2 separate regions of the Homo sapiens genome follow, and region 2 is linked to region 1. Evidence: fine-mapped expression QTL. A gene starts in region 1. The other region holds a variant in brackets. All regions are shown on one strand. Distances are between the middles of the regions.

What was found. PIP is the estimated chance that this variant, and not a neighbour inherited with it, causes the effect.
Region 2: its variant is fine-mapped to the expression of PHEX in spleen (GTEx, PIP above 0.99).

The regions. Positions count from the first base shown.
Region 1 is chrX:22,030,426-22,035,425 of GRCh38, forward strand. PHEX (phosphate regulating endopeptidase X-linked) reads left to right here and starts at 1,900. Exons shown (of 22, transcript NM_000444.6): 1 at 1,900-2,698. The coding sequence starts at 2,581.
Region 2 is chrX:22,107,211-22,112,650 of GRCh38, forward strand. PHEX (phosphate regulating endopeptidase X-linked) reads left to right here. Exons shown (of 22, transcript NM_000444.6): 10 at 4,257-4,350. Among named protein-coding and RNA genes, the nearest start is that of PHEX-AS1, 63 kb to the right of the region's middle. The variant G/A (reference allele first, on the strand shown) is at 3,491.

The DNA.
Region 1 (5,000 bases):
CTGGCTAATTTTTGTATTTTTAGTAGAGACAGGGTTTCGCCACATTGGCCAGGCAGATCTCGAACTCCTGACTTAGAGTGATCTGCCCACCTCAGCCTCCCAAAGTGTTGGGATTACAGGTGTGAGCCACCACTTCTGGCCCCGAAGTTGGTTTTTTGTTTTGTTTTGTTTTGTATTTGTTTTTTTCCAGACAGTCTTGCTCTGCCGCCCAGACTAGAGTTCAGTGGCATGATCTCAGCTCGCTGCAACCCGCCTCCTGAGTTCAAGCAACTCTCCTGCCTCAGTCTCCTGAGTAGCTGGGATTACAGGCGCCTGCTACCACGCCCGGCTATTTTTTGTATTTTTAGTAGAGACAGGGTTTCACCATGTTGGCCAGGCTGGTCTCGAACTCCTGACCTCGTGATCCACCCGCCTTGGCCTCCCAAAGTACTGGGATTACAGGCGTGAGCCACTGCGCCCAGCTGAAGCTGGTTGTTAAGAGTAAGTGGCTAGGGCTAACTTGTATGATTTTTATTGCTCTCCTTTTCACTGTGAAGGGCCAGGAAATGTCGATGTTGGAGCTGCAACATTGAACATGGTTCCTGACTTTGTGGAACTCATGGTCTAAGATGTGTTCTAGAGTGAGGTCCAAAAACTCTTGGGAGAATCCCATACTAGGGGCCAAAGTCCTGCTAGGGTGTGTTATGGAATAACAGCAACAAAATAATGTCAACAGCCAATGAGCACAGGATAACTACAACACACCATGATGTCATAACTTGGACAAAGGCTTGTGACCCCCTGACTTTGGCGCAACATGAAATGAGCAGAAAGTAAGGTATATTATGGAATAAGCCCCAAAACTTGAGAGAATCCCATGCTAAGGGCTTAAGCCCTGACCAAGACAAGCCAGACAGGACCATGAATGTGTGGCCATGTTATACTGAGCTCATCAGCACCTGCTGAGCTCCTGTGTCACCTCTAAAGCCATGCGCACAAGTTTTGCATTGAGATAATTGCTCTACTGGTTTCTAGATATAGTTGAATTCTCCACCCCCACTCCCACTGCCCTATGACCTCCAGCAAAACAAAAGCAGGTAGGTAGTAATTGTGTTGTGAGTTAACGATATCTATATCTTTGGATAATAAAATCTATATCATTTCAGTGGTAGCATTGGAATATCAGTTGCCCTTCCCCATGAAGAAAGCACATTGTTATCGTTTAAATCATTATCATAATCAAAAATATCAAAGACCCAGTCATTCATCAGTCTTTCCAGTGAAGTCAACTGCCTTTGTTTTTTGTTTGTTTATTTTTGAGACAGGGTCTCTCTCTCTGTCACCCAGGTTAGAGTGCAGTGGCGCGATCTGGCTCACTGCAACCTCCACCTCCCAGGCTCAAGCGATTCTCCCACCTCTGCCTCCTGAGTAGCTGGGAATACAGGTGCTCACCAACATGCCCGGCTAATTTTTGTGTTTTTAGTACAAACAAGGTTTCGCCTTGTTGGCCAGGCTGGTCTCGAACTCCTGGCCTCAAGCGAGCCCCCTGCCTCAGCCTCCCAAAGTGCTGGGATTACAGGCGTGGGCCACTACGCCCGGCCTGAAACCAATTGCCTTTGAATTCATCCTGGGGAATCTGCTGAAGTGGACAGTTTATGTAAACACAAAAACATCCTAATGAATGGCTGCCTCAGTAGGAGTGGCAGACAAAACACATGGTGCACTTTTCATCAAAAACACACAAGGAAAAAATTTTTCATCATATCTTTTGTAGTTGCTAATAAACTTAATTCACGCACTTGTGTTTTTTTGTGGGTTTTTTTTTTTGTACACTTCTTAGTACCACAAAGAGGAAGTGCTTTTTCTCCTTCCTTTAAGAAAAAGTTCCAGTTCAAACCATCAGCCTCTGTAGGTTGTCTTAATTGCTACTTTGCACTGCACTGGACTATGACTGATTTTTGGCACATGCTATCATACACAAAGTTCCTGAAATAAAATGCTCCAGGATATCCTAGGAACTCTTAGAAGGCTTTAAAAAGGGACTCACACACTGAAAGAATATCTTTGATGAAGACAATTCAGGCAAGCAGAATGATTCTTGCAACAGAATTACATGATTAATTGAGATCTTGAAGTGGGTCCGGTGAATCCTGGCCACCTAACTTATCATGATTTGGGGGAGTTTCACGAGAATCCAGTTTTGATAAAACAATTGTTTTTTTCCTCCCCAAGTGACTATACATTTAAATAGCTAAAACATCTGTTCAGCAACATAGTAAAACATATATACTCGGAACGCTTGAGAGAAGAGCCTGCCAAACAGGGACTTTGCTGAGGGAGAGCACCAAGATAAAGCAACACTGTTTGTTTTGTCTAGTCAGGGGGAAAGCCAAGGCAACCAATATTTTGGTTTTTATAATTTTCATTTGTGAAGAATTATTTGAGAAAGGGTGGCGAGGGGAGATTTCCTGACGGCAGTTTCTTAAGCTGTCCATTAGTAGAAGAGCAAGAAAGCCTTGGATGTCAACGCCTCGCTCTTGAGACCAGCCACCAAACCACGAAAAGTGACTTTCTTCTCGTGTGCTCTCTACGGCCCTTCTGATGGAAGCAGAAACAGGGAGCAGCGTGGAGACTGGAAAGAAGGCCAACAGAGGCACTCGAATTGCCCTGGTCGTGTTTGTCGGTGGCACCCTAGTTCTGGGCACGATCCTCTTTCTAGGTAAGTGGAGTGCAGGAGGCCGGGGGAACTGGGTGTGTGTCGAGAAGTTTCCTTGTGCTTTATTGTAGCAAAACTTGTCATAACACAGGTATAGGGCTGTTTGCCTGCGTTCATAGGTGGTGTATCTTTAGTTTCTATCAAATATGCAAATGATAAAGAAGGCTTTTTTAAGGAGCCTAAATAAATAAATACACCCAAGTACCAAATGTATAGTCCAGAAGGCAAAGTGGGTGTAAGTGGCTTCGAGTGGCTGGCTGATTCTGTTGCATTGGGTGGAAAATTTTTTATGTGGTACATTTAGCAAAATGAGTGTTTGTGAATTCATAGTCACATAGTTTCATTTATATTTTGAGGAAAGACTTTACATTGTGATGAAAACCATGCTGGAGTGTCTTTCCATTTGACTTTTATTAATGTTTGCTTGAACGAATCATGAAATTTAATTCACAAAACACAAATCAGTCCTTTAAAGTGTGCTTTTAATGATATTCTTCAATTCCTTTCTTATCCAGTGACTCTGGTGAGATGCAATTTGATTTACAAATTAATATGAAGGAAAACAGAGGTTTTCCCCCAAGATTTGAAAGATATTGTGATTCAGTTATTTTAATGACTGTTGGTGAGAATGATGTACCCAGAGAGTATATAGGATGATAGAAGTGTATTCCCATGAAAAAGAATCAAATATCTTGGAAAGGAGTGAGGGATTTTCTAAAATTCTAGGCTTTCTGAACCCTTGACTATTACCGTTTTAATTTTTCTCATACAACCCATAATACTTCATTAACTTGAACGTTACATAGGAACGAGGAGATTCTAGGTGCAGTTTGAAATGTAGCAAACCTGCAGGAGGCCATGTTTATTTTGGCAGGGGTAAACCAGTAATTAAACTTTAAAAGAGTTAGGGTTGTGTGGTTGAAAACTGCTAAAATGAGCAAACCATCTTTCCACGCTTTCTGTGGCTGAAGATTTAGGAAATTAGATGGGTTTATTGCTTTCTGATAAAGCGAAATCTCCTACTCCTGCAACTGAATCTGTGGCTCTTGAAAACTCTTGTAAGATTTCTCAGCACTTAGGGTTTAAACAAGGGTCCTCTGCTGAAATTCCAAACAAGAGGAAAAATTCTATGGGCATGCCAAAAGACTACAGGCTACGTGCAACGTGACTGCAAGGTTAGGTTTTGCAAATGCTCCCAAACTTAAAAATCCCAATAATTATTGTTTATGTAAAAATATGTACTCTTTTTAACGATATTACCACTGCACGAAACTTTTACAAAACTCTACTTTTATGATTACCTCCTGAGGCCGTGGCATATCGGTTGAAAGATTCTCCGCGGCAGCAAATCTTTGTTCTTTCAGAGAAAATTATTCTCAGGAAATAGTGCCGATGTTTTTAGAGCAAAGTAAAATTCATCAAGCCAGACGCTACTATTATGGATAAGGAGGCCTGCATAAAATATGAAAGAGAACTTTCCAGCGTGCCCAATAACCTGGCTCTCACCTTGACTCTCTAAGAGGAGCTCAAATGATGTTAGAGAATAAGGGCAAACTGAGGCTGTGGCCTCTACAACTTTGCTTCTCAAAATGGGGTCTGTGGACCAGCAGCATTAGCATCACTGGGGAGCTTGAGCTCCACCCCAGACCCGCTGATTCACAATCTGCATTTTCACAAGACCCCCAGGGGACTGTTTGCAAATGCAGGTTTGAGAAGCATTGCTTCAGGTGACCATATCTATTTGGATGTATACATTCAGGGACACTTCTTTTTGTCAAATATTTCTGCACTATTTTAGAATCACCCCCTTACCCCCTCTCCCCGTCCCTCTCCTCAACTCTGCCACCCACCTCCACTCTGCACCCAGGCAAAGTGCTTGTCTGAAAAGCTCCAGGGACCTGCCTGGCAATGCTCTTCATGACAATATTCTAGTTAGGGTCGTCGTCTCTTCAAGGGGCTTCCTGCTTGACTTTGTGGTATATTTCTCTGCCTGTCCACATTCACTTACATGCCTGCAATTTCTAGCATCCCTTCGTACCTCATCTTTGTATCTGAGGCTCTGGGATAATCTCTCCTCGCAACCTTAGTGCTTCTACAGTAAGAGTGATTGCCAGTGGTCTTGCAGTGGCTTCTGAGAAGCTACAGAGCACCAGAATGGAAAACCTTTCTTCTTCTCCTTCCCCTCTCTTTCCTCCCCACAATCTGTTTCTCAGATGCACTGGCTGGCAAACTTTTTCTGCCAAGAGCCAGATAGATAGTGAATATATTTGGCTCTGTGGGCCATACGGCCTCTTGCAACTACTCA
Region 2 (5,440 bases), 77 kb after region 1:
GGAAGGGCCCCTGCTTCTCAAACCCCAGTATACTTTGCCATACTACATCTTCCACCACCACCATTGGGCCCCCTAACAACTTCCCTAGTTATTCTGGCTCATCACCACCCCTTTGAGGGAATATCTTTTGAACTGATGAAAGGACATCTGCTGGCTGTTGACCTCCTTCTCGTCTCCACCTATGGATCCAGCATGGTTCACATGCCTGGTAAGAGGTATTTTAGAGACAAAGAACATAAAGTCCTTGCACTAGGACCAAGATCGGCCCATTAATGTGCTAGACACCATGACCTGGTCGCTGTCTGCATCTCCCCAGTGTGGCTGGCCTTTCTGCCCACTTCCTTGAGTGATGATCCTGTTCACCATCCTCTCCAACATATCAGCCGATTCCACCATTATTTAGCCTGTCCAGAGTTCACGTTCCTGTTTGCAACACCAAAGCCTTTTAACCTTTCGGCATGCTTCTCTCATGAAGCCTACTCTTAACCCTCAGTTTGAGATGTACTATCCTTACAGTGAAGTGTCTGGCACATACTTTTGGGTGCTAGTGTCTACCAAATCATTATTTATGCACTTGCCTCATCTCCCCTGCTCAGCTAAAAGCTTCAGGAAATCAGGGACTATCCATCTCCCCAGCACAGAGAACTGTTAGTATATATGTGGGTGCTCAGGATGTGTTGATTGAGTGAATGAAAGAAAGACCCTTATGTACTGACAGTGTGTCCCTTCAATTAAACAACCCAATTACATGAACAAGCTGAAATCTGAAGTCCTGTGTTCCCAGCTGGACTTTGAGTTCTCTAACTGTAGGTGCTGGGTTCTTACTTCTTTACGTTCCTCATGGCATCTGGCACAATACTTGGCCAACAATAAGTGCTCAGTGAGCACTTCTTGTCCTATTAAGGAGTGGAGATGTGAATGCAAAAGAGCCAAAGGAATGACCCCAAACCACTTAGTGGCCTCAACAGAGATGGGCAAGGGCTGGACTTTGCTGATTAGTGCAGTGGTGTCTTAGGGGAATGCGCATATCCTAACAAGATCCATTGGGTCTGAGAAGAACATTTTAGAACTTCTATATCTTTATTTAAATTTAAAAATAATTAGGCTTTATACAGAGTGGTATAATGGACTTTGGAGACTCAGAAGCAGGGAGGGTAGGAAGGGGATGAGGCATAAAAAAACTATAGATTGGATCCAGTGTACATTACTTGGGTGATGGGTGCACTAACATCTCAGACTTCACCACTATACAATTTATCCATATAACCAAAAACCATTTACATCCCCAAAAGCTATTGAAATAAAAAAACTTTATAAAGAAAAATAATTACACTTTATTGAGTTCTATATTGATGGCTATGGACCCTTCATTTGATCTGTATGGAACATGTGAGAGGGGCACTGTCACCCTCACTGGCTTGTTTTCATTCAATATATTAAAAATAATCTCAGCTGATACGGTGGCTCACGCCTGTAATCCCAGCACTTTGGGAGGCTGAGGCGGGAGGATCACCTGAGGTCAGGAGATTGAGACCAGCCTGACCAACATGGTGAAACCCCATCAGTACTAAAAATATAGAAATTAGCCAGTCGTGGTGGCGGGCATGTGTAATCCCAGCTACTTGGGAGGCTGAGGCAGGAGAATTGCTTGAACCTAGGAGGCAGAGGTTGCAGTGAGTGGAGATCGCGCCATTGCACTCCAGCTTGGGCGACAGAGCAAGACTCCATCTTCAAAAAAAAAAAAAAAAATCTTGAGCGGTTTACATATAGCTGTGGATTTATGAATTTTATTATCTAGTTTATCTAGTTTACTACTTACAAAGTAGACAAGTGGCTTAAAAATTCTTGCAGGAAACAGGAATTGAAATGATTATTGATGATGTAAGCACAAGAGAACAGCTAGAAATTGGCAGAAGTGACCCTTCTCCCAGGCTGGTATGCCATGTTGGTTAGCCAGATGACAAAAGAAATACAATGGTGGTCTAACAAGAACAAGGACAATGGCAATCTGACAAAGACATGTCATACATTTTTGAAATAGTCAAGAAGACTCTAAGAAATGTGGATTTATATTCATTGTCATTGTTGTATTAACCAAATCCTATATGGACACTGTGTCTTGAAGAATTAACCCAATGGTGTTTGAAGAATTAATGACTTTTGAAGATTTTAAATTTCATTTTACCTCATCTTTTGAAATTTCTGTTTTTGTATTTGTTAAAAATATTCCTAATATATTAGTCTATTAGTATATCTCTATAGAAATTAAACATCCATGTATTGGGTGTGTATGCTGAAAAATATTTTACTAGTAGGAGCGCATGTCCACTGTGTCAGAATGTCATACAAATGAGAGTGTAGTTTGTTCTTGATGGGCTTTTAGCATCATCATGTCATATTGCTCTCATGTGATTGGCTCACCAGAAAGCCATTTCAGGAATGTGTGTTATTAGTCACCATGGTAATGGCACAGCTGGGAGGGGAATGGATCATTAAAGATCCATCATCACTATTGAGTTAGAAATTAACTGAGATCACACATTCTTCTGAGGTCAGGTCATCTTTTGCTTATAGAAAAAGGCAACCCTTAAAATTTAACAGATTTTTAAAGATATGTATTATAGGCATTACATGAGCTTATGAGGTTGTTCATACATTTGGAAGTGAAAGACAAAACCCTAGAAATTGACTATTTGTCAAGCATTTTGTTATTTATTTGAACCCTGCAACAACTCTGTAAGGTAGGGATCATCCTCATTGTATGAAAAATAAAGATAAAATCACAGACCTTAAGTGACTTGTCGAAACTCACATATTTAGTAAGTATAGAATGAGGGTGCAAAATTAGATGATTGGTATTAGCCAATATTTTGCTGTTAGTTTCCAAAGGCAAAGAATACATAGGCATTGTATCAAGTCACCTAATCCAGTAAGTCCTCACTTAACATCATCGATAGCTTCTTGGAAACTGTGACTTTAAGCAAAATGACAGATAATGAAATCAATTTTACCATAGGCTAATTGATGTAAACAAGAGTTAAGTTCCCATGGCATATTCCTGCTCACAAAAACATCACCAAACTTCTAAATAAAGACCAAAACACTTCTAATATTGAACATTGAATACATGTGAGCTATGCGTACATTTAAGAAAGACAAATAAAAGCAAGTAAGATAATTTTTTTTGATCTTTGGAACCCATTCAATGTTTTTGTAGACATATTCTTTTTTTTATCCTTGTTTTCATTTTTTAAATTATACTTTAAGTTCTAGGGTACATGTGTACAACGTGCAGGTTTGTTACATATGTATACATGTGCCATGTTGGTGTGCTGCACCCATTAACTCAACTCGTCATTTACATTAGGTATATCTCCTAATGCTATCCCTCCCCCCTCCCTCTATGCAGCCATAAAAAATGATGAGTTCATGTCCTTTGTAGGGACATGGATGAAGCTGGAAACCATCATTCTCAGCAAACTATCACAAG[G/A]ACAAAAAACCAAACACCGCATGTTCTCACTCGTAGGTGGGAATTGAACAATGAGAACACTTGGACACAGGAAGGGGAAAGTAAGATAATTATTAACCCAGTTATTCTAGTTCAGGGTTGCAGGTGCTGGAGCCTATCTAGGCAGCTCAGGGCACCAGGCAGGATCCAGCCCTGGCTAGGATGCCATCCTGTCACAGGGTGCAGTAGCTCACCATGCTCACTCACACTGGGAATGTGTAGACACGCCGATTAACCTAGCAGGCACATCTTTGGGATGTGGGAGGAAACCACAGCACCCAGAGAAAACCTGTGCAGACTTGAGGAGAATGTGCAAACTCTACACAGACAGTGACCCTGGCCCAGAATTGGTTTTTTCCTTATCAACTGTATAACAAAAGGATGTTGAATGAAATGATGTTATTCGAGGATCTGCTGTAATTTGAAGGTACTCACAATTTCCAGACACGAAAGGCTGTGTAACAGTGGACTTTATACCCTGAGAGTGAAAGTAAAATGTTCACTCTGAGGGCTGGAGCTGGAATCTTTCCTTCATCTATCTCTGTTAGGTGGTGAAAAGCAAGCCAATTTTGGTTGTGCTTATTGACATTGTATCATCTTATGTCATTTCTCAAGTGAAAGTTCTGCATTTTTGTATGAGTAAGAGGTCCCTCGATGGAGCTTTGCCAACTGTTTCTCTCAAGATGTTCTGCAGAGCATCAGATATTGACCTAAAATACAATAAATGGGCATCTCTCTCTGTTAACAGGACCATTGCCAACTATTTGGTGTGGAGAATGGTTTATTCCAGAATTCCAAACCTTAGCAGGCGCTTTCAGTATAGATGGCTGGAATTCTCAAGGGTAAGTTTAAGAAGATTGCAGTGTTACATCGCTGGATAACTTTACATGCTGGAATAGTCCATATATTAACTGATCCAGTAAAAATCATCTTTAGGGATTAGACAGGGGGAGTTTGTAGCCCAAGCTCTATTGTTTTTGTGTGTGTGTGTGTGCCTTATTTATTTTTATTTAGGTATAAATTACATATGGTAAGGTACACTCAAGTTTTACTTTGATGGGTTATATAAAGATATTTAGAGAAATACTTGAGGCCACACATTGTTTTCAAACTTCCCCGTCTTATTAGTGTATTCCCATTTTCCCCCAGAGTTTTTAACTGGGTCACTGTAATTATAGTTTTAACATTTCTTTGTGATATATTTGTAACTATCTTTTATTCTCAGTATTCTGAATATTTAAAATGTGCATGATAGAGATATTGGATGGTAGAACTTCATTTTCAATTTGGAAATGGAATTTTGTCTTAAACTTTGCCTATACCTTCCATCTTTGAATCTATCCTCTGCTAGGTCCAAGAGGCTCCAATTTAGTTTTCTTGCTCAACTGTCTGAGATGGTTTTCCTCCACCTGCTCACCTGGCTCTTTATTTATTTATTTTTATTAGAGATGGGGTCTTGCCATGTTGCCCAGGCTTGTCTTGAACTCCAGAGCTCAAGTGATCCTCTCACCTCAGCTTCCCAAAGTGCTGGGATTAAAGGCACGAGCCACTGTGCCGGGCCTCACCTGGCTCTTTAACCTTTGCTTCTCTCCCACCCTTGCTCGTCTCCCAGTTTGTACCCATGTTACTCTCACCTTTGTTTTTGAGGCTTATGTCTGACTAATTCTCCTACCACTAGAGGCCGTAAGGATTTTGTATCTTTGAAACAGTTTTTATTTTTCTATCAATTTAAAGTTAAGTGAATGGTGAATCTTATAAGCTATGATTTCATTCAAGAGGCATTTTAGTTATTAGAGGAACTAATAAGTATAGAAATTCTTAGTGGGCCATTACTCTGGAAGAGTAGTGCAATTATTTTGGATATGCTTTGACCCTATAAAGTCACTAGCATATAAAGTTACTTTAGGGCTGGGTGCAGTGGCTCACACCTGT